Homo sapiens: one gene and its partners. The protein of the gene in region 1 purifies or fractionates together with the protein of each later gene. This does not show direct contact. Each region holds a gene or a part of one and is shown in the gene's direction. Other genes may lie near its edges.

Evidence for each region.
Region 2: the proteins of KDR (region 1) and ZSCAN21 purify together in Homo sapiens (affinity purification with mass spectrometry, with the first as the bait; one large-scale study listed by BioGRID). This does not show direct contact.
Region 3: the proteins of KDR (region 1) and PLXNA1 purify together in Homo sapiens (affinity purification with western blotting, with the first as the bait; one study listed by BioGRID). This does not show direct contact.
Region 4: the proteins of KDR (region 1) and SCUBE2 purify together in Homo sapiens (affinity purification with western blotting; one study listed by BioGRID). This does not show direct contact.
Region 5: the proteins of KDR (region 1) and ANTXR1 purify together in Homo sapiens (co-immunoprecipitation; one study listed by IntAct). This does not show direct contact.
Region 6: the proteins of KDR (region 1) and NCOA4 purify together in Homo sapiens (affinity purification with mass spectrometry, with the first as the bait; one large-scale study listed by BioGRID). This does not show direct contact.
Region 7: the proteins of KDR (region 1) and CDH5 purify together in Homo sapiens (affinity purification with western blotting; 3 studies listed by BioGRID and IntAct, with this or other methods). This does not show direct contact.

What each region holds. Positions count from the first base shown.
Region 1 is NC_000004.12:55,101,596-55,105,095, reverse strand, and holds part of KDR (vascular endothelial growth factor receptor 2 precursor), read left to right. Parts: intron 1-111; coding exon 112-453; intron 454-2,587; coding exon 2,588-2,734; intron 2,735-3,067; coding exon 3,068-3,199; intron 3,200-3,500. UniProt on the Homo sapiens protein: Tyrosine-protein kinase that acts as a cell-surface receptor for VEGFA, VEGFC and VEGFD. Plays an essential role in the regulation of angiogenesis, vascular development, vascular permeability, and embryonic hematopoiesis.
Region 2 is NC_000007.14:100,062,657-100,065,540, forward strand, and holds the end of ZSCAN21 (zinc finger and SCAN domain-containing protein 21), read left to right. Parts: intron 1-1,131; coding exon 1,132-1,961; coding exon of another isoform or gene 1,962-1,995; 3' UTR 1,996-2,131; coding exon of another isoform or gene 2,132-2,256; 3' UTR 2,257-2,384; downstream 2,385-2,884. UniProt on the Homo sapiens protein: Strong transcriptional activator. Plays an important role in spermatogenesis; essential for the progression of meiotic prophase I in spermatocytes.
Region 3 is NC_000003.12:126,989,615-126,993,114, forward strand, and holds part of PLXNA1 (plexin-A1 precursor), read left to right. Parts: coding exon 1-173; intron 174-1,769; coding exon 1,770-1,952; intron 1,953-3,500. UniProt on the Homo sapiens protein: Coreceptor for SEMA3A, SEMA3C, SEMA3F and SEMA6D. Necessary for signaling by class 3 semaphorins and subsequent remodeling of the cytoskeleton. Plays a role in axon guidance, invasive growth and cell migration.
Region 4 is NC_000011.10:9,085,100-9,088,599, reverse strand, and holds part of SCUBE2 (signal peptide, CUB and EGF-like domain-containing protein 2 isoform 4 precursor), read left to right. Parts: intron 1-3,500. UniProt on the Homo sapiens protein: Lipid-binding protein required for SHH long-range signaling by binding to the dually lipid-modified SHH (ShhNp) and by promoting ShhNp mobilization, solubilization and release from the cell membrane.
Region 5 is NC_000002.12:69,180,679-69,184,178, forward strand, and holds part of ANTXR1 (anthrax toxin receptor 1 isoform 1 precursor), read left to right. Parts: intron 1-1,107; coding exon 1,108-1,203; intron 1,204-1,814; coding exon 1,815-1,982; intron 1,983-3,500. UniProt on the Homo sapiens protein: Plays a role in cell attachment and migration. Interacts with extracellular matrix proteins and with the actin cytoskeleton and thereby plays an important role in normal extracellular matrix (ECM) homeostasis.
Region 6 is NC_000010.11:46,006,624-46,010,123, reverse strand, and holds part of NCOA4 (nuclear receptor coactivator 4), read left to right. Parts: intron 1-572; coding exon 573-713; intron 714-911; coding exon of another isoform or gene 912-977; exon of another isoform or gene 978-1,000; intron 1,001-3,500. UniProt on the Homo sapiens protein: Cargo receptor for the autophagic turnover of the iron-binding ferritin complex, playing a central role in iron homeostasis. Acts as an adapter for delivery of ferritin to lysosomes and autophagic degradation of ferritin, a process named ferritinophagy.
Region 7 is NC_000016.10:66,397,691-66,401,190, forward strand, and holds part of CDH5 (cadherin-5 preproprotein), read left to right. Parts: intron 1-291; coding exon 292-416; intron 417-765; coding exon 766-871; intron 872-3,080; coding exon 3,081-3,326; intron 3,327-3,500. UniProt on the Homo sapiens protein: Cadherins are calcium-dependent cell adhesion proteins. They preferentially interact with themselves in a homophilic manner in connecting cells; cadherins may thus contribute to the sorting of heterogeneous cell types.

The sequences.
Region 1 (3,500 bases):
GGATAGAGCTTCATTTCTTTTGGTACTTTGTAGTAGTCTGAAAGCAGCAAGATGATAGTGAGCTGTACCAAGTTAAATCACCATTCAATAACTATGGCCTCTTCATTTTAGGGGGTCCTGAAATTACTTTGCAACCTGACATGCAGCCCACTGAGCAGGAGAGCGTGTCTTTGTGGTGCACTGCAGACAGATCTACGTTTGAGAACCTCACATGGTACAAGCTTGGCCCACAGCCTCTGCCAATCCATGTGGGAGAGTTGCCCACACCTGTTTGCAAGAACTTGGATACTCTTTGGAAATTGAATGCCACCATGTTCTCTAATAGCACAAATGACATTTTGATCATGGAGCTTAAGAATGCATCCTTGCAGGACCAAGGAGACTATGTCTGCCTTGCTCAAGACAGGAAGACCAAGAAAAGACATTGCGTGGTCAGGCAGCTCACAGTCCTAGGTAGGGAGACAATTCTGGATCATTGTGCAGAGGCAGTTGGAATGCCTTAAATGTAGTGCAATTCAGGTGCTATGCAAAGATTACTGTCCTCTAGGAGATTATGTTGTAAACTGGTGCACACTTCTTCACCGAAAGTCCTTGAGGAAGAAAGAAGCTAATAATAATGAAATGATATATCGAAAGGAGAAAATAACAAAACCTGATGATGGAGTAATTCACTAGTATATGCAAGGGATATTAGCTTGAACCAGGGAAACTTCTGCCTTATCTTGGGCATCCATTTATTTAAATAGACAAATATTTGTGGAATGCCTGCTATGAGCTAGGAGAGTGTCAGAAATTCACAGTGGTAAACATGAAGGAAAGGAGGAGAACATAGGCAACCACTGGGAAGTCACAGCACAGTGAGGTCTCTGTGTCCATGAGAACAGGAATTGTTCTCTGTTTTGCTCCCTGCTATAGCTCTAGTCATAGAGCATAGCAGCATATACTAACTGCTCAATAAGGCACCTGCTGCATGAAGAGTGGGATGATGGGCTGCGTTTAAGACCTAGAAGACTCCATGGGAAGGAAGCTACATTCACTGTCTGTACCTCTGGGTCATCCCACATGATCCAGCGTAGCCCAAGGTCAATGGGACGATCACTTCAGTGAGCAGATAGCTCTGTAAATTCCTCCATAGAGGCACTGTCTACCCCTTGTCTAACCTCATGCCTTGTGCAAAAGCTGGGCAGCCATGGCTTTGTCTGTGGGAAAATCAGGCAAATTTGGGGAGCGTCTCTTTGTGCCACTTCTCTCCATTTTCTCCTCTTGTGGTGTCCCTTTCCAATTCCTAGGATATATGTGCCCTCTGTTTTTTTTTTACTGTTAGGAAGGAAATTGCCCAAGTAAATTCATCTATACCACAGTTTTAGAGGGTAACGTCTTCATCAGAGGCCTTGGCGTATTTGAAGAGGCACCTTCTGACAGACACTAGCATAAAGTTCGCTAGTTTTAAGACTCAGGTGTCATAATAAGAGATACTTTGGGGTCAAGTCATCCCCAGCATCCTTCAAGTCACACCACATAGATCACATGGATTTTCTGTTGGCTTGTCTGGCTTCAAGGTTATGGCAGAATTGAGAAAGAGATGTGAAGTAGGCTCCTGGCCTAGCTGTGCCCAGAAAATATGTGCTCGCAGTTAGCTGCTTTGCTTCCCTAAGGACTCCTAACTTGTTTTCCTAAAACCTATTCTTAGAAATAGGCTAGAATCCAGTACATTTGCTTAGACTTCAATGTAGTACGCTGTTGAGGTAATCTCATTTTGCTAAGTGTTGACGTGGATTTTTTCAGCATGATTCCTTTTGATGTTCAGTTGGTTGGGACAAGATATTTCCACAGCACTTTGATGATCTGAAGAAAGAATAAATCTAAAGTGTTCTTGTACACTTAAACAAATACTCATGGGCTTCATTTTCTTTAAATCCAAGACTTCCCTTAGGGTATTGTTGTTTTGTTTGTGTTTTAGTGGAAATAGCACTGAACTGGTCTTTTAGCCTCACCAGATTCTGTAAACAGTTCAACTGTTTACTTAGTTGCAGGGACATGGACAAGTGGTTTAATGTCGCTGAACATCATTTATTTCATCTGTGAGATAACGCTAACAGTCCTATTCTGCTCATTACATAAGATCACTAGTGAGGAACACAAATTGTGTAAACAAGTTTTATAAGAATTGCCAAATAAATGTAAGGCATTATTGGTTGAATGATACTAAAATTTGGCACTTCCAAGAGAAATTTGAAGGGATTCTAGGGTATTATTGACTAGAATCTTCATGGGAGGGAAGTTTTCACCTGGGGAGGCTGTGTCTAATTAGAGGAAAAATCCATAAAGGTGACCCTGAACCTTTCTTTTGTGATGGGATTACCAGCTAGTATCACTAATATGAATGTTAAAAGCCATTAATCTGTTTGCAGTGTCCTGACTGACTTGTTTCATTTAACTTTACCCAGTGACCAGTGTATTTTCCCAGAAGTTAATATATCAACAAGTTCCTTTTTACTAAATTTAAACTGTTTAAAAGTTTGCTGATACCAGAACCATTTCAAAAGTTATAATTCCATGTTCTGTGATTTTCTTTTTGTGTGTCTAGAGCGTGTGGCACCCACGATCACAGGAAACCTGGAGAATCAGACGACAAGTATTGGGGAAAGCATCGAAGTCTCATGCACGGCATCTGGGAATCCCCCTCCACAGATCATGTGGTTTAAAGATAATGAGACCCTTGTAGAAGACTCAGGTAAATAGAATTTGGCTATCACTCTTGGGTTGCAGAACTTTCCCAGGGATGTTATCTAAAAAGCCATATTATTTCTTGATGTAATGTAGAAAAAAAGCAGTATTGGTGTCCATGACCTGGCTCATTTCACAGACTTAGAATTGGAGTATGGGGCCCTGTTGAATTTTCATGAAAGCCATATAGGAGATTAGTCAGCAGTAGATCCCATGTGACTCTACAGAGTTAGATAATAGAACAAGATGAAGGGCAGCATTTATATTTTCTAAATTTCCCTGAAAAACTTCACAGACTACATCATCATAAATGAGAATGATCGTTTTCTTCCTCTGTTAGGCATTGTATTGAAGGATGGGAACCGGAACCTCACTATCCGCAGAGTGAGGAAGGAGGACGAAGGCCTCTACACCTGCCAGGCATGCAGTGTTCTTGGCTGTGCAAAAGTGGAGGCATTTTTCATAATAGAAGGTCAGTGGGATAAAAAAAAATGTGGTACATATACACCATGGAATGCTATGCAGCCGTAAAAAGGAATCTGATCATGTCCTTTGCAGCTGCATGGATGGAGCTGGAAGCCATTATCCTCAGCAAACTAACACAGGAACAGAAAACCAAACGCCACACATTCTCACTTATAAGTGGGAGCTGAACAATGTGAACACATAGACACAGGGAAGGGAACAACACACACTGGGGCCTACTGTGGGTTGGGGAGAAGGAGAGCATCAGGAAAAATAGCTAATGCATGCTGGGCTTAATACCTAGGAGA
Region 2 (2,884 bases), on another chromosome or scaffold:
CTGATGTCAGGAGTTTGAGACCAGCCTAGCCAACATGGTGAAACCCCATCTCTATTAAAAATACAAAAATTAGCTGGGCGTGGTGCCAGGTGCTTCTAGTCCCAGCTCTTCGGGAGGCTGAGTCAGGAGAATCACTTGAACCCAGGAGCGGAGACTGCGGTGAGCCAAGATGATACCACTGCACTCCAGCCTGGGCAACAGAATGAGACTCCGTCTCAAAATAAATAAATAAAATAAATATTTTTTTAAAGATAGGGTCTCACTCTGTTGCCCAGGCCAGCACAATCATGGCTCACTGCAGTCTTGACCCATTGCAGCCTTGACCTTCCAGGCTTAAGTGATCCTCTTATTCAGTCTCCCAAGTAGCTGGGACCACAGGGGCACACCATGCCCACCTAATTTTTTTATTTTAACTTTTTGTAGAAATGGGGTCTCCCTATGTTGCCCAAGCTGGTCTTGAACTCCCAGACTCAAGCCATCCTCCCGCCTCAGCTCCCAAAGTGCTGGGATTACAGGCGTGAGCCGCTGTGCCCGGCTACCACTCTCATATGCTGCATTTTGCCTTCTGTATGTGAAGCTGTTTTTCTGGCAGAAAAAGCCACGTTCTCTTCACATCTTAATAGCTTCGGGTGGGGAATTGTGTGAAAGTGTGGTATGGAGGCCAGGCCTGGTGGCTCATGCCTATAATCCCAGCACTCTGGGAGGCTGAGGCAGGCGGATCACCTGAGGTCAGGAGATCAAGACCATCCTGGCCAGCATGTTGAAACCCCATCTCTACTAAAAAAAAATACAAAAAATAGCTGGGTGTGGTGGCACGTGCCTGTAATTCCAGCTACTCTGGAGGCTGAGGCAGGAGAATCGCTTGAATCAGGGAGTTGGAGGTTGCAGTGAGCTGAGGTCACCTGCATTCCAGCCTGCTGACAGCGAGACTCCATCTCAAAAAAAAAAAGAAGTGCAGTATTGTAAACTAGATTGGATGCTGATTTACTTGTATCTATGCGCTATCATGAGCTCTGTTTAGTCACCCTTCAGAAACCATCAGTCTCACCTGATGGTTCTATCTCTCTGGTAACAGTTTCTTCCTCAGAACAAGAAACAACTGAAGTATCCTTAATCTGCTTATTGTTTCAGATTGCAGATTGAGTACCCAGCACGAGGAATCAGCAGATGAGCAGAAAGGTTCTGAAGCAGAGGGGCTCAAAGGGGATATAATTTCTGTGATTATCGCCAATAAACCTGAGGCCAGCTTAGAGAGGCAGTGCGTAAACCTTGAAAATGAAAAAGGAACAAAACCCCCTCTTCAAGAGGCAGGCTCCAAGAAAGGTAGAGAATCAGTTCCTACTAAACCTACCCCAGGAGAGAGACGTTATATATGTGCTGAATGTGGCAAAGCCTTTAGTAATAGCTCAAATCTCACCAAACACAGGAGAACACACACTGGGGAGAAACCTTACGTGTGCACCAAGTGTGGGAAAGCTTTCAGCCACAGCTCAAACCTCACCCTCCACTACAGAACACACTTGGTGGACCGGCCCTATGACTGTAAGTGTGGAAAAGCTTTTGGGCAGAGCTCAGACCTTCTTAAACATCAGAGAATGCACACAGAAGAGGCGCCATATCAGTGCAAAGATTGTGGCAAGGCTTTCAGCGGGAAAGGCAGCCTCATTCGTCACTATCGGATCCACACTGGGGAGAAGCCTTATCAGTGTAACGAATGTGGGAAGAGCTTCAGTCAGCATGCGGGCCTCAGCTCCCACCAGAGACTCCACACCGGAGAGAAGCCATATAAGTGTAAGGAGTGTGGGAAAGCCTTCAACCACAGCTCCAACTTCAATAAACACCACAGAATCCACACCGGGGAAAAGCCCTACTGGTGTCATCACTGTGGAAAGACCTTCTGTAGCAAGTCCAATCTTTCCAAACATCAGCGAGTCCACACTGGAGAGGGAGAAGCACCGTAACTTTCAAGCGCTCCTGTTGTTGTCGTTGTTTTAAACTTTAGAATCTGAAAACCAGAAAGAAGTCTTGTCATTGCAGCAGCATCGATTCCGGTGATAGAGTTTGTATCACTCAACATCAGGGGATGCCTGAGGAGTGCGAGCTCCACAGCAACATGGCAGGCAGGAGGTCCTCAGAAGGTGTCAGGAGGTTCCACACTCGCCAGTTCACTGGAGCAGAGTCCCTTCGCCACACTTAGGGTCCCAGTAAGCCATGCCAGCATTACCTTTTGCGTAGTTAAACAGACGTGTATCCAGTCTAGTTAAGGAAGAAACATTAAGATTGTTTAATTTTTAACATATATTCAAGAATTTTAATTTGTAAAGAATTGAGCCACATTGAACACAATTGAATGAGATTCAGAATAAACTTATAACATCTTGTAATGCCTCAGGACTATTATTATAACAAATGATGTGTTGGTTATTGAATACTTACAGATGGAGAAAACTATTCCTACTGGTTTAGCTTTTAGAAAATTTGGATTTGGGGGTCAGGCACGGTGGCTTACGCCTGTAATCCCAGCACCTTGGAAGCCTGAGGCGGTCGATCACCTCAGGTCAGGAGTTCGAGACCAGTCTGGCCAAAATGGCGAAACACTGTCTCTACTAAAGATACAATTAGCTGAGCATAGTGGCGGGTGCCTGTAGTCCAAGCCACTCGGGAGGCTGAGGTGGGAGAATCGCTTGAACCCGGGAGGCAGAGGTTGCAGTGAGCCAACATTGCGCCACTGCACTCCAGCCTGGGTGACAGAACGAGACTCTGTCTCAAAAAAAAAAAAAATAAAGCGAATGCTTTCACTAGATAATAACTGCATACCAAGAGCCAGGGGCCATGTTGAACTGTGCCGGCACAGCTGTTGTGGATGAGTTTGTGGCAAACAACC
Region 3 (3,500 bases), on another chromosome or scaffold:
TCGCCCAGGGCCAGAAGAACCGCGTGAAGCCACCAAAGGAGTCAGCACTGTGCCTGTTCACGCTCAGGGCCATCAAGGAGAAGATTAAGGAGCGCATCCAGTCCTGCTACCGTGGTGAGGGCAAGCTCTCCCTGCCGTGGCTGCTCAACAAGGAGCTGGGCTGCATCAACTCGGTGAGTTGGGCAGGGGCGCCCCTCCTCCCGCGGCCCCATCCCCTCCAGGGACGACGGCATCGGTGTCAGATGCACGCCCAGTGGTGCCTGCTGTGTGCCTGGCCTGGCTTTTGGCTTGGCCATCCCCATGGCTCAGCTAGGTGGGGCTGCCCTTTTCCATCCCCCAGAGAGTGGGTTTGGACCCAGGGTGCTAGCCCCAAAGGCTGCTCCCAGCCATGATGCTGTCTTGTGCCTCAGAAGATGGGGTGACGAGGCCCTGCTGGCATAGTCCACAGCCCCTGTGGGACACTGGACAGAGTGCCAGCCACATGCCTGGTCCTACACCTGGTGCTTGCCTGCTCCATCTTGTCCCCATCCTACAAATGAGGTTATAGGATCAGAGAGGTGGGGTAACTTGCCCTGGGTCACACAGCAAGTGAGAGGCTGGTGCCAGAGCCTATCAGGTGAGCCCAGACACCATTTCCATGGAGCGCTTGTGTCCCCCACATGACCCTGGTGGCACCTGCCCGCTGGGCCTCTGCTTTTGCCCAGCAATGGGAGCTGATGGTGTCCTGGTGCAGGCCACAGTTAACAACTTGCAGAGAAAGTGACCCTGACTGCAGGGAGCCACAGCCCCCAGCACCCATCAGAAGGCACAGCTGGGGTGGGGCCTCTATCTCGCTGCCTTTCAGGGAGTGTCTTGTTCACACTCCTGGGCAGGCTCAGAGGGCACGGGCCTTGCTTAGGGTGGAAAGTGAAGGGGCTGGGACTCGGCCCAGACCTGGGACCCCCGAGGCCAGGCCTTCTGGGCTTGCTGCTGGGGGTCGCTGGCCATCGCAGGGGAAGGCCTCGCCCTCTCTGGCTGTAGTCTCCCATGTCTGACCTGAGGGTGTTGCTGGTTTTGTCCTCAGGGCAGAGTGGGACTGCAAGGGCCCCTCAGTCCTTCCGTCTCACGCTCACTGCCTGTGTGAGGCAGGGCCCATGTGTGCTTGGCAGATGCGGTTGTCCACCCTCCCCTTGGCTTTTCAAGGAACGTGTTTTCTCTGCACCATACAGATGGAGACACTGAGGCTTGTAGGGGCAGAGCCTGGGTGAAGCCCCACCACACTCTCTCTTTGTGCCCTGCCCCAAGGCTGGGGCCTGCTCTTTCATCCCTGGGGACAGTCCCCACTGCCCCCTCCCACCTGTTCATTCCATGTGGCCTAGCCCTGGCCCAGCCTCCCCTGCTCCTTCCTCCTGAGCAGCCTGGCCCCTGCCAATGAACCCTCTGCAGACAAGGACCATCTGCCCCACTTCTCCCCACATCCCTTCCCTGCCTGCCCTGCCCTCTCCTTAGGCCTGGCGGTGGAGCAGCGCCCCCTCCACACTGGCCCCCAGCTGCTCCGGAACCTCAAGCTATTGATTGCTTTCTCGTGCTCTTAGCTGGGAGCCCGCCCTCTGCCTTTCAGGTGTGATCTGCTCCCTCCTGTCTTAAACCCTCTCTGTCTGCACCTCTCCTCTGGGGGCTACCCCCAACCTCTCTAGAAAGACAACTGCACTCCCAGCCCTGCCCAGGGAGGCCCAGTCCTCCGGGAGAAGGTGCCCGGGGAGTGGCTCTCACCCTGCCCCTTCCCACAGCCCCTGCAGATCGATGACGACTTCTGCGGGCAGGACTTCAACCAGCCCCTGGGGGGCACAGTCACCATTGAGGGGACGCCCCTGTTCGTGGACAAGGATGATGGCCTGACCGCCGTGGCTGCCTATGACTATCGGGGCCGCACTGTGGTATTCGCCGGCACGCGAAGTGGCCGCATCCGCAAGGTCAGGCCTGGGTGGGGTGGGGTGAGGAGGGGGCTTGGGGCAGGAACAAAGGCTTGCGGCCGTCCCAGGTGGCAGGCCCAGTGCTGCTGTATGCTGTGGGAGGCTAGATCTGGCGTACAGGGGGCAGGGGGAATGTTGCCCTACACTAGGCCCAGTGACCTTGAAGGGCCCCACTCCCCTCTGTGCCTCTGCCCATGACTGGCCCCAGGCCCACTAAGCAAGGACACTTTGAGACCACGCAGGAGCCTGTGCAGGGGCCCAGGGATGCTGAGGCGGGGGCTGGCTCTCCAAGGGCACTTGACCTCCTGGGGAGGCTGCTGTGTGTGGGTGGTGAGGGCAGGCCTGCGCGGCCCCCTCCCCTCTGGGCCCTGCTCCCCAGCCAGGAGATCCAGTGTCTGCTGCCTCAGCACTCTGCCGGGCCAGAGGCCTTGGCCCTGCCTCTCCCCAGCCCCTCTACTGGGCCAAGGGCAGGGCAAGGGTAGTGCCCCTGCCTGTCTTTGGCTGGTGCTTGAGGAGCTCCAGCACACAGCCCTGGGCTGGCCCCACGGTGGCAGGGGGAGGGCTAGGTGCTACAGGGATGGCTGTCTGGTCTTCAGGGTTCTCCTTTCCTTCCCCAGAACAGTGGGCTGGACAGAGGCAGTGCAGAGCTTCCTGGAGGGTGTGGGTGGAGGGGAGCTGCCTGGGCTGGGGTGGGCACCAGGCTGGCCTGGTGTGGAGGAAGCTCCCGGAGAGACTGAAGGGTGGGGATACTTGGACACCCCAGAGGCCCAGTGGGCAGTGGTGGGTCCTGGGGTGCATAACCGGCACCAGAGGCTGGTGCCGATGCAGCTCCCCTGAGCCCATGTGTGCCCGCGAGTGGGGCTGGGCCGGGGGCTGGCCAGGGCTTGCAGCTCTCAGCCCGGTGCCCAGTGTTAGGAAGGGGGCCTCCCATCTCTGCCATGGTAGTTGCCCTGGGAGTGGTGGGGAGTCCTGCCCCTCCCTGGCTCTGTGATCTCTGGGAGGGGATCCCCTGCAGCCTCAGCTTCCCTCTGTGAAATAAGCCAGATGTTCAGGCTCTGGGCTGGGGGCGGGGGGTGCTGGTGGTCTTGGGGCCCGTGGGGGCCCAGCTGCTGATTGTAGGCCCCCCAGGGTGGGGGTGCCCTGGGGTCCTGCTGGTTCTGCTCATAGTGGCTATGAGGCTGAAGCTGATGGGGAAAGTCCTGTGACCCCTGAGTTGGGTCCTCTGCTGTGACTTCCCTCTTGGCCCCCATGTGGGGTACCGCCCTGTGGCTCTGGTGCGAGGCCCCTCCCGTCCTCTCAGCCTGCACTCCCTCTCCTCACACTGGAAGGCACACAGGGCTCTCGAGCGCATGGGGTGGGTGTTGGAGTGGGTTTTGCCAGACAGAGGACCGTGCTTGTGTGGAAGCCCAGTGCAGCAGCTTAGAGACATTTTGTGGGGCGCCCCAGAGCCTGTTACCCAGCCAGTGACCAGGTTCCTCTAGCCCTACCCTGTTCCTGCTGCCCAGCACTCACCCTCTTGTGCCCCAGGGGCACCGTTTGGGTCAGAGC
Region 4 (3,500 bases), on another chromosome or scaffold:
AGGATCTAAAGCTACACAATGAGTAAGAAAGTCCTTCCAAGTCTCTTTCCACTTCGAAAAACATATTAACTTCTTTAGATGAGGAGGAAAACTTTTTTGAGACAGAGCTTTGCTCTTGTTACCCAGGCTGGAGTGCAATGGCGCGATCTCAGCTCACTGAAGCCTCCTCATCCCCGGCCAGGAGTGTGAGACCAAGCAATTCTCCTGCCTCAGCCTCCCAAGTAGCTGGGATTACAGGCGCCTGCCACCATGTCCAGCTAATTTTTGTATTTTTAGGACAGACGGGGTTTCACCATGTTGGCCAGGCTGGTCTCAAACTCCTGACCTCAGGTGATCCACTGGCCTCGGCCTCCCGAAGTGTTGGGATTACAGGCATGAGCCACTATGCCCACCCAGAGGAGGAAAACTTTTAATGAGTGTCTATTCTGGTGCCATTTAATGGCCTAGTGTCCAGACCCTGATGTTTCAAACCAATCTGTTTCATACTGTGGCCTCTGAGTAATAAAGATTCTAAATATTGGAACAGTATATAATGCTCAGCAGTGCCTGGTACATGGTAGACACTGAATAGACATCCTTATTTTTGAATAAGTGATTGTGTAAGATGGGCTCAGTCTACTAGCACCTTGACACAAAGTCTTTTCCAACAAACAGACAAACCCACAAATGAAATATCTAGATACAGAATATACAGATGACCAAGTAGGTAAGTGACTGTCAGATGCTTTTGCAGTGTTGTAGCAATGACCTGATCCTCCCTATCCACCCATCTCCTTGTCTTAGCATAGCTGAGACAAGAAATGGGATCTTTACAATGAACTTTGTTACAAAGGAAGGGAAGACCAAAAGAAAATATAGACAGCAAATATGAATAACAGATGGGATTATGACGGGCAAGTTTGGATCTGGTGACACCCCTTGGGATATCATTCAGGGAGCTCCCCTTTGTGCATGAGGAGTGAGGCTCCCACCGCTCCCATTGGAGAAGGTGTGGTCCTGGTCAGGTGCATAGCAAGTGGGGTTGGTGATCCATCCATGAAGTAGCTCACGCTCTCTCTCTCTTTCTCTCTCTCTTCCCCCCTCCCCCTGCCATGTCATGGGAGGCCAAAAGGCTATCTCTCCCCAGAACATTTATCTGCTGATTCCTCCATACCACACACTTTCGGTATTAAATATTCTATTTGCTGTACTGGAATTCACACATGTTGGTACCCTGCTTTGGAAACAAATGTTCACTTCTTTACTATGTGGATAACTCACGTCCTCCAGTTGCTGTGTGCTCTCTGGTGGCACAAAACCATTCCACTGACTTTATTTAGATAAAGTACACTTTTAGTAAATGATGTTAAATGACAATTGGCAAGAGTTTCCTTACTCTTGGCTTTTGAGTTTGATATATTTCAAATGAAATTGAATTGCTAACAGTTTATAGTTGAATTGTTAAAAGTCTATTATTTAGTTTAAAATAACTAATGATTGACTGGCATTGTGCCATATATATATATAAATTTATTTTAAAATGATATGTGATTGTTATAAAAAGTCAAATAATACAAAATGTGTAAAATAAAAAATTAAAGAGCCTCCCATCCATTTATCCACAGATAGTCATGGTTAACAGTGAGCATACATCCTTTGTACTGTCGTTTGGAACTCAAACCCTAGAAGAATTTGATCTTTTGAATATTTGTAGTATTTACAATACTAGTAAGTAAGGATGTCCCTCTTTTTTTTTTTTTTTTTTTTTGAGATAGAGTCTTGCTCTGTCACCCAGGCTGGAATGCAGTGGTGCAGTCTTGGCTCACTGCAACCTCCGCCTCCCAGGTTCAAGCAATTCTCCTGCTTCAACCTCCCTAGTAGCTGGAATTACAGGCGTGCACCACCACACCCGGCTAATTTTTGTATTTTTAGTAGAGATGGGGTTTCACCATGTTGGCCAGGCTGGTCTCGAACTCCTGACCTCAGATGATCCACCCACCTTGGCCTCCCAAAGTGCTGGGATTATAGGCGTGAGCCACTGCGCCCGGCCAGGATGTCCCTCTTAGTTTGGATTTCTTGGTATAGGAGTACAGAAATGGAAATTTTCTCCCAAGAAGGAAAAGGAGAGGAAATGAGGATTGCAAGGATTCAAAGATGTAGATATACAAAGATGTAACTCCTTTATCCATTTCTTGGCCTATTAATTTTTGAGCCTCTTGGGACCAACCTATGGTATCATTTGGGTTGTGATTATTGCCAGCTTCACTACTCATATTTAAGTTCAGGGATGAGGATCAGGTTTACTCAGAGTAACTAGAATTTTATCTTCCATAAAGTTTTCTTCTGCCAAAATGTTGGAGAAATGTGTGAGCCCTGAATAAGTGGGTTTAAAAATAATGTGATTCAGACGTTGCTTTAGGTAATCTTTTATTCTAAATGATCTTTGCTTATTTGCTTATTTATTGTATGGTTCTTACTTCTCAGTTTGAGGAATTGAATTGGCTCACGCCTGTAATCCTAGCACTTTGGGCGGCTGAGGCAGGAGGATACCTTGAGCTCAAGGGTTTGAGACCAGCCTGGGCAACATAGTGAGACCTTCTCTCTACTAAAGGTCAAAATAATTAGCTGGGTGTAGTGGTGCGTGCCTATAGTACTAGCTACTCCAGAGGCTGAGGTGGGAGGATCACTTGAGCCCAGGAGGTGGAGGTTGCAGTGAGCTGTGATTGCGCCACTGCACTCCAGCCTGGGCAACAGAGCAAGACACTCTGTCTTAAAAAAAAAAAAAAAAAAAAACTAAAGAGATTGAATAAAGTTTAACAGGGATGAATCTAAAGTTGGCCTTTGTACAAGATGCTATATTTTTCTTTTCTTTTCTTTTTTAATTTTTTTATTTTTGAGACACAGTCTCGCTTTGTCACCCAGGCTGGAGTGCAGTGGCGTGATGTTGGCTTATTGCAACCTCCGCCTCCCAGGTTCAAGTTATTCTCCTTCCTCAGCCTCCCCAGTAGCTGGGACTACAGGCGCCCACCACCACGCCTGGCTAATTTTTTGTATTTTTAGCAAAGACGGGGTTTCACCGTGTTAGCCAGGATGGTCTCTATCTCCTGACCTCATGATCCGCCTGCCTTGGCCTCCCAAAGTGCTGGGATTACATGCATGAGCCACCGCACCCAGCCTATATTTTTCTTTTTAAAAAACTTTTTATTTGGACATAATTTTAAATTTCAGAAAAGTTGCAAAAATAGTGCAGAGTTCATCTGTGTATATATATGCCCTTCATTCATTTTACCCTAATGTTAACAACTTACATAACTATAGTACAATTATCAAAACCAGGAAATCAACACTGGCACAATGCTATTAAGTAAACTACAAACTTTATTCAAATTTCACCATTTTTCCCTACCATTCTTTTTTTGTTCCAGAATCCAAGTAAAGTCCCACATTAGATTTAGCAGTTGTGTCTCTTGTCTCCTCCAGTCTGTGACAGTTCCTCAGTCTTTCCTGACATTGACACTTTT
Region 5 (3,500 bases), on another chromosome or scaffold:
ATTCTAAAGACTGGGAATACAATTGTAAGCATGACAAACAAAAGCCTCTGTGGAACGTACGTTCTAGTGTGGAGAGACAGATATTAAGTAAATATCAAGCCATGATGAGATCCTTAACTAAAAATAAAACAGATTGATGGAATGAAGAGACCGCGGCTACTTTAGAAGAAATTTCCAGGGGAGGTTTCTCTGAGGAGTAATATGAAAATCCATCCATCAGAAGATGGGGTGGGGGAAGTGCTTTCCTAGACAAGGGGACAAGGGGACACTGTGCACAGGCCCCAAGACAGGAATTTGCCCAGAGTATTTGAGAGAGGGCAGGCAGGCTGGAGCTCAGGAGGAGGGGGGCACATGATAAGGAAGAAGGCCAGAAAGGTGAGCAAAGGCCAGAACACACAGGGCAGAGCTGGCGTTTGCACTTACTCTGCTGCTTTGTGGAGAACAGATCATAGGTGAGTCTTAGGGCAGCAGGAGGCCAGTTGGGAAGCTACCACAGTGTCCATGAGCAAGTGCATGGGGGCTTGGGCCCAGGATAGTGGTGGTGGGGATGGAGAAGTCAACAGATTTTAGATCTTTAAGTAGTAGCAACAGAACTAGCTGGCAAGTTGGGACAAGTTGGGGAGAGGCAGTAAAGAAGAGAGAGGCAGTGGGGAAGACTACAGGAGGAGCATGTTTAGGGTAGGGAAATCAGGACATCTCTGCTGTGGTGTTGTTGAGATGTTTTTTAGCCCCCAAATAATGTGAATGTCAAGTGAGCAGTTGGAGTTCAGAAGCATCAGGGCTGAAGATGTAAAGTCACAAGTCATTAGCATGTAGGTGGGGTTAGATGCGATTCCCACAAAGGAGTAGAGCTGTAGAAGAGAACAAGAGAACAGGACTGTACCACAAACTTACCAGGTAGCACTGCTTACATTCCCACTCTACAGATAAGGAAAACAAGCTTAGGTGGTTTCAGTGATTGGCCCAAGGTTCTAGGAAACAGTAGCACTGGGATTGCACCCAGGCAGTCTGACTCTATAAGCTCTACTCCTAATCACTTGGCTGTAGTAGGCAGGTCCACACAGCAGTGCTGTTTTGCTTCCTTCATGTGCCACAATTTCTCTGCAGGAAGAAGATGATGATGGTCTGCCTAAGAAAAAGTGGCCAACGGTAGACGCCTCTTATTATGGTGGGAGAGGCGTTGGAGGCATTAAAAGAATGGAGGTAAGAGGACAGCTTCATATACACTTATCTATGTGCTGACTACTCCCATCGAGGTACCAGCCGGGCCTGACCCTGCTTAGCCTCTAGATATCAGGCATGCCCAGGGCAGTATGGCCGTAGACCACACTGATGACTCAATGTCAGAAACCCAAAGCAAATTGCTGAAAACCTCCTTGAGGTCTGGTGGGGATATGGATTGTAAGGCAGACGGATGGAGAGATAGGAGGGACAGCCTTTCACTGTGCGTTTCCATGTCTTGCCCACCGTGAGTCAGAGCAGGTCACACATCAGCTCAAACGTCCTCGTGATTTCTTTTCTCACTGGAATAAAATCCAAAGTTCGTACCTGAACCTGCAAGGTCTTTGCATGTGCTGTCCCCGCTGCCTGGACAATTCCTCCCTAAATATCCACCCATGTGGCTCAGCTCTCTGCTCCTTTGGTCCTCCCCTTTTCTCTTTTTCCACAGTTTCCCTCTTCCCTGGCCCTCAAAACCCAAAGGAATCCAGGGTTGGGTAGCATTCACATTGCAACTCATGCATGTATTTGTCATTCTCATTCTCGAGGGGCAGCATATTTTGTCATTTCATTTCATTGTATTTTGTTTATTTTAGGTTCGTTGGGGAGAAAAGGGCTCCACAGAAGAAGGTGCTAAGTTGGAAAAGGCAAAGAATGCAAGAGTCAAGATGCCGGAGCAGGAATATGAATTCCCTGAGCCGCGAAATCTCAACAACAATATGCGTCGGCCTTCTTCCCCCCGGAAGTGGTACTCTCCAATCAAGGTGTGTCTCTTTACTCAAAAAATCTATCATCAGTCCTGATAAAACACTTACATAGTGAAGAATCAAAATCTTTCCACATGATAAAATCCCAACCTAAAACCCAGCTTATCACAGGGGAACAATTATCTAAAATTATGGACTTGAAAGTACTAGTAATTACTTTGTCAATTTCCACATAATCTGGGTTGAAAACTAGGCTTTTTAAAAATCACCGTGGTGCTCACTTCTGCAGCACATATAGTAAAACTGGAACAATATAGAGAAGATTAGCATGACCCCTGGGCAAGGATGACATGCAAATTCGTGAAGTGTTCCATATTAAAAAAAAAAAAAAAATCACCATGGCAAGGTACTGGAAAAAGCATGGACTGTGAGTCAAGTAACTTGGGTAGTAACCCCAGAGAGTGACTATAAATTTCCATAGCATCTCATAACTTCACTTAGCAGACAATCTACTATCTAAGAAAAATGGCAGCCTTCTCCTTAATGCTAATCTCTACTCCTTTTGCCATAATATAAGCCCATTCCCTTTTATTTGCGCCTCCTGCCAGTGTATCAGGGCCCACCAGCAAATCTCACTGGTCATGGATCTAGGACTCACTCTTTCTGGTTGTAAGCAAATCTTTTTTCTCCACCATCTGTCTTTCCCCCACACCTCCAGATCTTAAAATCCTCTTTGGTTTATTGGGAAGTGTAAACCGTTGGAGGCAGTTAATGTTTCCTAAAGGCCTCTTTTTTATTTTCTATTTATTTATTTTTTGAGACAGGTTCTCACTCTGTCACCCAGGCTGGAGTGCAGTTGTGTGATCTCTGCTCACTGCAACCTCGACCTCCCAGGCTCAAGCCATCCTCCCACCTCAACCCCCAAGTAGCTGGGACTACGGGCACGCACCACCACACCCAGCTAATTTTTGTTTTTTTTTTTTTTTTTTTTTTTTTGAGGGACGGATTTCACTATGTTGCCCAGGCCTGTCTTGCACTCCTGATAAAGCAGTCTGCCCACCTCGGCCTCCCAAAGTGCTAAGATTACAGGCATGGGCCACCATGCCCAGCCTGAAGGCCTCTTTTCTATTCTTCTTGGTCCAAATGGCTTTGAATTCACATGATTCAGTTAACACCTTCAATCTTTAGCCATGCCCATAAACATCTGCACTATGCCACTTGTCAGAGAGCACTGGAAAATTATAGCTGAAAAGACTCTAGACATAATCTGTCCCCACTCTCTGATTTCATACTGAGATAGGCAAAGTCCTTGTTCTGCTGAGGTCTGGAAAACAAGGCCCCCAACTCAGGGCTACAGACTCCAGTTTCAAGCTGCAAACAGAACCGAACCAACTCCAAAGCCTCAAGTCAAAGACTCAATAGAGCCAGCTCCCATCACCATCCATACACATACACACACTCACACACACACACACACACAGCCTTACCCCCCTTCCAATAGCAACAAAGATTATTTTCATCATTCGCTGAGTTAATTTGCTAATTTTGGATCAGGGCTTCTCCAACAAATCAAAA
Region 6 (3,500 bases), on another chromosome or scaffold:
CGATCTCAGCTCATTGCAACCTCCCCTTCCGAGGCTCCAGCCATCCCCCTGCCCGCACTACAGCCTCCTGAGTAGCTGGGACCATAGGTGTGCACCACCATGCCTGGCTAATTTTTTGTATTTTTGGTAGAGATGGGGTTTTGGCCTGGGCTGGTCTCTGAACTCCTGAGCTTAAGCGATCTGCCCGTCTTGGTCTCCTAAACTGCTGGGATTACAGGCGTGATCCACCACACCCAGCCTAGAGTTTCATATTTCATAATCCCAAACCTTGCAAACCGGCCAGCCAGATCCTTAAATATGTTAAATACTAAATTTGGAATGGAGGATTTATGATTTTTTTGTGCATTTTCCAGGCCTAAGCCCCATCCTTCAGGAAAGAAAAGAATCTAGCCTGTTTTATTGCTATTTATGGAAAATATTTGGGGTAGAAATAACAATTGTCACCTTTGTTTTTGGTTGTTACAGAGAATGGCCAACATTTAAATTATTCTCTGTAGACCCTATTTGGAAGATAAGTTGGTCTCATGCCTCCTTGTTTTCATGAAGCAACCTACTCTTTTCTTTTATTGCAGGAAGTATTACTTAATTCACCTCTACAGGAGGAACATAACTTCCCCCCAGACCATTATGGCCTCCCTGCAGTTTGTGATCTCTTTGCCTGTATGCAGCTTAAAGTTGATAAAGAGAAGTGGTTATATCGAACTCCTCTACAGGTGGGTACATGCCACCAGCATGAAAATTAGATTATAGCTATTTATAAAATAAATGTTTTGTCTTACATATGAAGTCATACTTGGCTCACTGAACCATATCCCTTTTAATAGTATGTATATTAGGCAAGTGAGGGTGGGACGGGGGAGCTCATAAAAAGTTGATGTATTTTAATTGAATTTGCTTTATTAACTAACTAGGCATACTTCAAAATGAACTTTCAAGATGTAACCGTTGGGAATTTTCAGATCCCATGTGGATTCTAGTAGTTTATATACCTACCTCGAAGGTGGGTTTGGTTCCAGGCCACTGCAATAAAGCAAATATCCCAATAAAGAGAGCTACACAAATACTTTGGTTTCCCATTGCATATAAAAGTTGTATATAATACACTATAGTTAAGTCTGCAATAACATTATGTCTTAAGAAGAAACCAATGTACATACCTCAATTAAAAAGTATTTTATTACTACAAAATGCTGATGGTCATCTGAGCCATTAACACATAATCGTTTTGCTGTTGGAGGTTCTTGCCTTGATGTTGATTACTGCTGACTGATTAGGATGGTAGCTGCTTGAAGGTTGGGATGGCTCTGTCAGTTTCTTTAAATAAGATAATGAAGTTTGCTGCATCGATTGACTTTTCCTTTCACGAAATATTTCTAACATGTGATGCTGTGTGATAGCATTTTATCCACAGTAGAACTTTCAAAATTGGAGTCAAACCATGTTGCTGCTTTATCCACTAAGTTTATTTAATATTCTAAATCCTTTGTTGTCACTTCAACAATACACAGCATCTTCTCCAGGAGTAGATTCTATCTCAAGAAATCACTTTCTTTGCTCATCCGTAAGAAGCAACTGCTCATCCGTTTAAGTTTGATCATGAGATTGCAGCAATTCAGTCACATATTCAGGCTCCACTTCTAATTCTACTTCTCTTGCTGTTTCCACCACATCTGCAGTTACTTCCTCCACTGAAGTCCTGAGTTCCTCCAAGCCATCCATGAGGGTGGGAATCCGTTTCTTCCAAACTCCTGTTAATGTTGATATTTTGACTTCCTCTCATGAATCATGAATGATCTTAGTGGCACCCAGAATGGTGAATCCTTTCCAGGTTTTCAGTTTACTTTGCCCAGATCTATCAGAGGAACCTAGGTAGCTAGGGCCTTAAAAAATGTATTTCTTAAATAATACTTGAAAGTTGAAATTACTCTTTGATCCATAGGCTGCAGAATGGATGTTTTATTAGCAAACATGAAAACATTAATCTCCTTCTGCATCTCCATCAGAGCTTTTGGGTGACCAAGTGCACTGTCAATGGGTGTAGTATTTTGAAAGGAATGTTTTTTTCTGAGCAGTAGTTCTCAACAGAGGGCTTAAAATATTCAGTAAACCATGCTGTGAACAGGTGCGCTGTCATCCAAGCTTTGTTGTTCCATTTCTAGAGCACAGGCAGAGTAGATTTAGCATAATTCTCAAGGGCTCTAGGATTGAAGCACTGGCTTCAACTTAGCCACCAGTGGCCAGGTGCAGTGGCTCAGGCCTGCAATTCCAGCACTTTGGGAGGCAGAGGTAGGAAGATTGCTTGAGCCAAGGAGTTTAACACCAGCCTGGGCAACATACAGAGACCCTGTCTGTACAAAAATTAACAAATTAGCTGGGTATGGTGGAGCGTGCTATAGTCCCAGCTACTCAGGAGGCTGAGGTGGGAGAATCTTGTGTCTGGGAGGTCAAGGCTGCAGTGTGCTATAATAGCTCTGCTGCGGTCTTGCCTGGTTGACAGAGGGAGACCCTGTCTCAAAAAAAAAAAAAAAAAAAAAAAAAAAAAGAGTCACTGGCTGTGTTAGTCCCTAACAAGAGAGTCCATCTGTCCTTTGAAGCCAGGCATTCACTTATCTCTCTAGCTATCAGTTCTAGATGACTACTTCTTCCAATAGGAAGTTGTTTTGTCTGCACTGAAAATGTTGAGTGTAGCCAACTTCATTTACGATCTTGGCTAGATATTCTGGATAACTTGCTACTTCACCTTGCATTTTTGCTATGGAGATGGCTTCTTTCCTTAAACCTCATGAACCAACCACTGCTAGCTTCAAACATGACTTCTGGTTCCTGACCTCTCTCAGCCTTCATAAAATTGAAGAGAATTAGGGCCTTACTCTGGGGTTACGCTTTGGCCTAAGGGAATGTTGTGGCTAGTTTGATCTCCTATAGAGACCACTAAAACTTTCTCCATATCAGAAATAAGGCTGTTTGCTTTTTAAATTATTCATCTGTTCACTGGAGTAGCACCTCTAGTTTTTTTCAAGAACTTTTCAGCCAGAGAATGAGAAGCTGAAAAACAACAAAAAACTTTGCTTTTGTGCTCACAGCTTGGCTGGTCCAAAAGGCCTGCCCAGCTTTCAGCCTCTCGTGGCCTTCAACATGACTTTCTCGCTAAGTTTAATCATTTCTGGCTTTTGATTTAAAGAAGAGTGAGAGATGGGGACTATTCCTTTTAGTTGAACACTTAGATGCAATTGTAGGGTTAATAATTGGCCTAATTTCAATCTTGTTTTGTCTCAGGGAACAGGGAGGCCTGAGGAGAGAGAAGAGAAATAGGGAAAGGCTGTTTGGTGGGCATTCAGGACATTTATTGATGAAAAGTTTACCATCTTTAATGGGCATAGTTCATGACACAAATGCTTAATTTGTAAAAAATACAATGTAACAAGGGTATACCTGTATTGGGAAATGAGTCGGAGCTTTAAGGCAGGGAAAATTTGCTTTTATTCTTCATTGAAGTAACT
Region 7 (3,500 bases), on another chromosome or scaffold:
ATAATTAAATTTTTAATTTTAGGAATTTAATTACAATTTTTTTAATGCACTTAGGTGGTTTACCTTTTTGATTCTCATAATCAAAGTAATACCTCAGTAAACCTTATGGATGAGATTTAACACCTCCCCCCACCAAACTCCTTTTATCCAGAACACCATCCTGGGCCTCTGTTCCACAGCCTCCTCCTGCAAAAAGTGGCCTCCATAGGGCAGCCCTCCTTCCACACATCTTCCACCGCCCAAGGCCAGCATCAGCTGAGCCCATAATGGTGACAGTCTTCTCCCCTGCAGGAACCCCCACAGGAAAAGAATCCATTGTGCAAGTCCACATTGAAGTTTTGGATGAGAATGACAATGCCCCGGAGTTTGCCAAGCCCTACCAGCCCAAAGTGTGTGAGAACGCTGTCCATGGCCAGGTGAGTCTGGTTCAGGTGGGAGGGGAAGGCAGCACCACCCTGGGGCAGGCTGGGGGGCAGAACTGCTCAACAGAGTCAGCAGGAGTTCCCCTGTACAATAGCCTTGAGGAAAATAACATTATGCCCATTTTACAGATGGAGAAACTGAGGCTCAGAGGGAATATATGGGGAGTAGATTGGCGGGGCAGGGAAGTAGAAAGAATGGCTTTATGAAGAACTAAATAGGTGAGTGTTGCAGGTGGGAAACAGCCATGGTCAGGACTTAAACCCAAAGGCTCCATCGCTAAACCTCAGACCACCCCACCACCCCACCACCATCACTGACCATCTCCTGTCTTCCACACTCCAGCTGGTCCTGCAGATCTCCGCAATAGACAAGGACATAACACCACGAAACGTGAAGTTCAAATTCATCTTGAATACTGAGAACAACTTTACCCTCACGGATAATCACGGTAGGCATCAAAGTAATCAGTTCAGCTGGGCGTGATGACCCACACCTGTAGTCTCAGCTACTCAGGAGGCTGAGGCAGGAAGATCGCTTGAGCCCAGGAGTTTGAGGCTGCAGTGAGCTATGATCACATCACTGCACTCCAGCCCGGGCGACAGAGCGAGACCCCGTCTCCAAAAAAAGAACAAATGCAGTCAGTTGGCTCTAACAGGGTCGGGGTGAGGTTATTTGAGTCTTGAGGCACCAAGGTCAAAGACCAGGCCAACAAATTGAGGGCAGGCTCCCACTGGGATTTTCAAATCATTAGATATTTTGTACAATTTCTGCCACATACATTGTACAATTGGTCTATGCAATGGTCAGAGACACTCCATCCAAACTCCCAAGTCCACGTCGCCTGCAAGGAGCCAGCGAGGAGTACAGAACAGATGTGAGGATGCAGGCAGTCAGCTCAGTTCAAGAACTAGCCAAGGAGTCCCCTCCCATACTGGAGGCTCTATGGGTCAGCAAAACTGCACATTAAACATGGAACTTTGAGGTCATTCCCAAAGAGTCAAAACTGGAAATGTGAAATCCTAAATCCCAAGGATCCAGTGAGCTTTGTTTTAATTCAGCTACAACGATTACTCACGATTAGCAGGGTGGCCCGTGTGATGGCATTAGCAGCCAATCAGAGCTTCTGAGGAGTAGGTGCTGACTTAAGTGATGATGCTGAGTTGACTTCATTCCAGCCACAAGTAGGCAAGCTTCCATGGCCTCTGAAATTTCCTCAAAAAAATAGAGAAAATTCCCCTTGGGTTTAAATAGAGTGATCCTTCACCTAGCATGGGATGGAATTCCTGCCTGTCCCTAATGGGCAAAACTATGGTGGATGAGGATGGCTGTATTGCAGCAGCCCATTACTACATTTAAGGAAGACTGGGGAGTGGGGTCCCTGAAAGTTGGAGGCAGACTTGAGGGATCAACCACAGACCAGTCCTTAAGGAGACTCCTGTGGGATGGAGAAGGTGGCCCTGATGTGTTGACAGTCAATGACAGACCATTCAACACCCAGTTGTCATTAGAAGTAAATAATGTGGCAAAAATGTCACCCCCTCCCCAATGTCCACCTCAGTCCCATCTCAGAGTGGGGATCTGCAATACAGTAGAAAGATTCAGTGCCACCCCAAAGACACCCATATACAATAGGAGGCAAGTCTGTTGGTGTCAAATTCACTTATATCATGAACATCCTGCATGTCAAAATCTCTAGTTTCTCCCATAAGTGTCAATGACATATAGTTTATTTTGAAATATAATAGACTTAATGCTGAAATGTAATTATGAATAATGAAATATAATTGGCTTTCATTCAAAATCGAAAAGATGGATTCCTGGGTTTTTCAATCCAGTGTGTGGAGCCTGTGTAGCTAAGTAAATCCTGGAGTAGGGAGTTCCTGGATCCTTCTCTGATCGTTGACATTACAACCTCCTGGGACCCTGCAAAAGGCAGATTATCTGGCCTCTGCCCAGAACCACTGAATAAGAAGTGTGTGTGAGCATAGGGGTCTGAAAATCAGCATGTTTTAAAAGCTCCCTGGGGGATTCTTGGGTACAGGAAACCACTGATTGGATCTGGGAAGGTGGGCGGGGCCAATATTTGGACAAAAGCATTTCCCAGTTCCAAACTGCCTGGGAAACCCGCAATTCTATATGTAATCATTTTCTCTGTGCCCCAAGGGACATGTCCATTGTTTTTACTGTTTTCAACAATGTAACAATGGATTTTCAGAGAGAGCAGAAGCTGCCTTAGAAATTAGCCTAATGCTAAAAGACTTTTTAAAACTTTATTTTTCCCCGCTGCTTGTCAAAGCTTGAAACGGAGCATTAATTAATTGAGCTGAAAGAGAAAACCTCCTGTTACTGGAGTGGGGTTAGGGAAGAGGAAGGGGAGAGGCATCAGTTGCCCACAAATACAGAAAGCAAAGGATTTGACCTTCTTTCACCAAGGCATCCTTGGAGATTGGGTCAAAGCAGCTGCCCCAAAATATCCCCTCTGTGGCGGAACAGACCTGCACTCAGATGGCTGAAACAAGAGGCGCTGGGTGCAAAGGGCAGAAAAGCAGCCCAGGGAGCACGCAGGCTGGTGCAGTCAGGGAGGGCTTCCTGGAGGAGCCAGGTTTCCCCATCTGTGCAGATGGCAAAGCCTGACTCCGAGGCCTTGGTGTTTCCAGATAACACGGCCAACATCACAGTCAAGTATGGGCAGTTTGACCGGGAGCATACCAAGGTCCACTTCCTACCCGTGGTCATCTCAGACAATGGGATGCCAAGTCGCACGGGCACCAGCACGCTGACCGTGGCCGTGTGCAAGTGCAACGAGCAGGGCGAGTTCACCTTCTGCGAGGATATGGCCGCCCAGGTGGGCGTGAGCATCCAGGCAGTGGTAGCCATCTTACTCTGCATCCTCACCATCACAGGTCAGTGCTGGGCAGGGTGGGGAGAAGACACAGTGGGTGGAAGGGGATGGAAGGTGTTGGGAGGCGGGGAGGCTTCACAGGAAAAGTAGAGGCCAGAGGTTCAGGCCCAACCCTGCCTCCAATCTGCAATGCAGCCCTTAGCCAGTTCATGTGCAGGATGCAGGATGTGAGCTC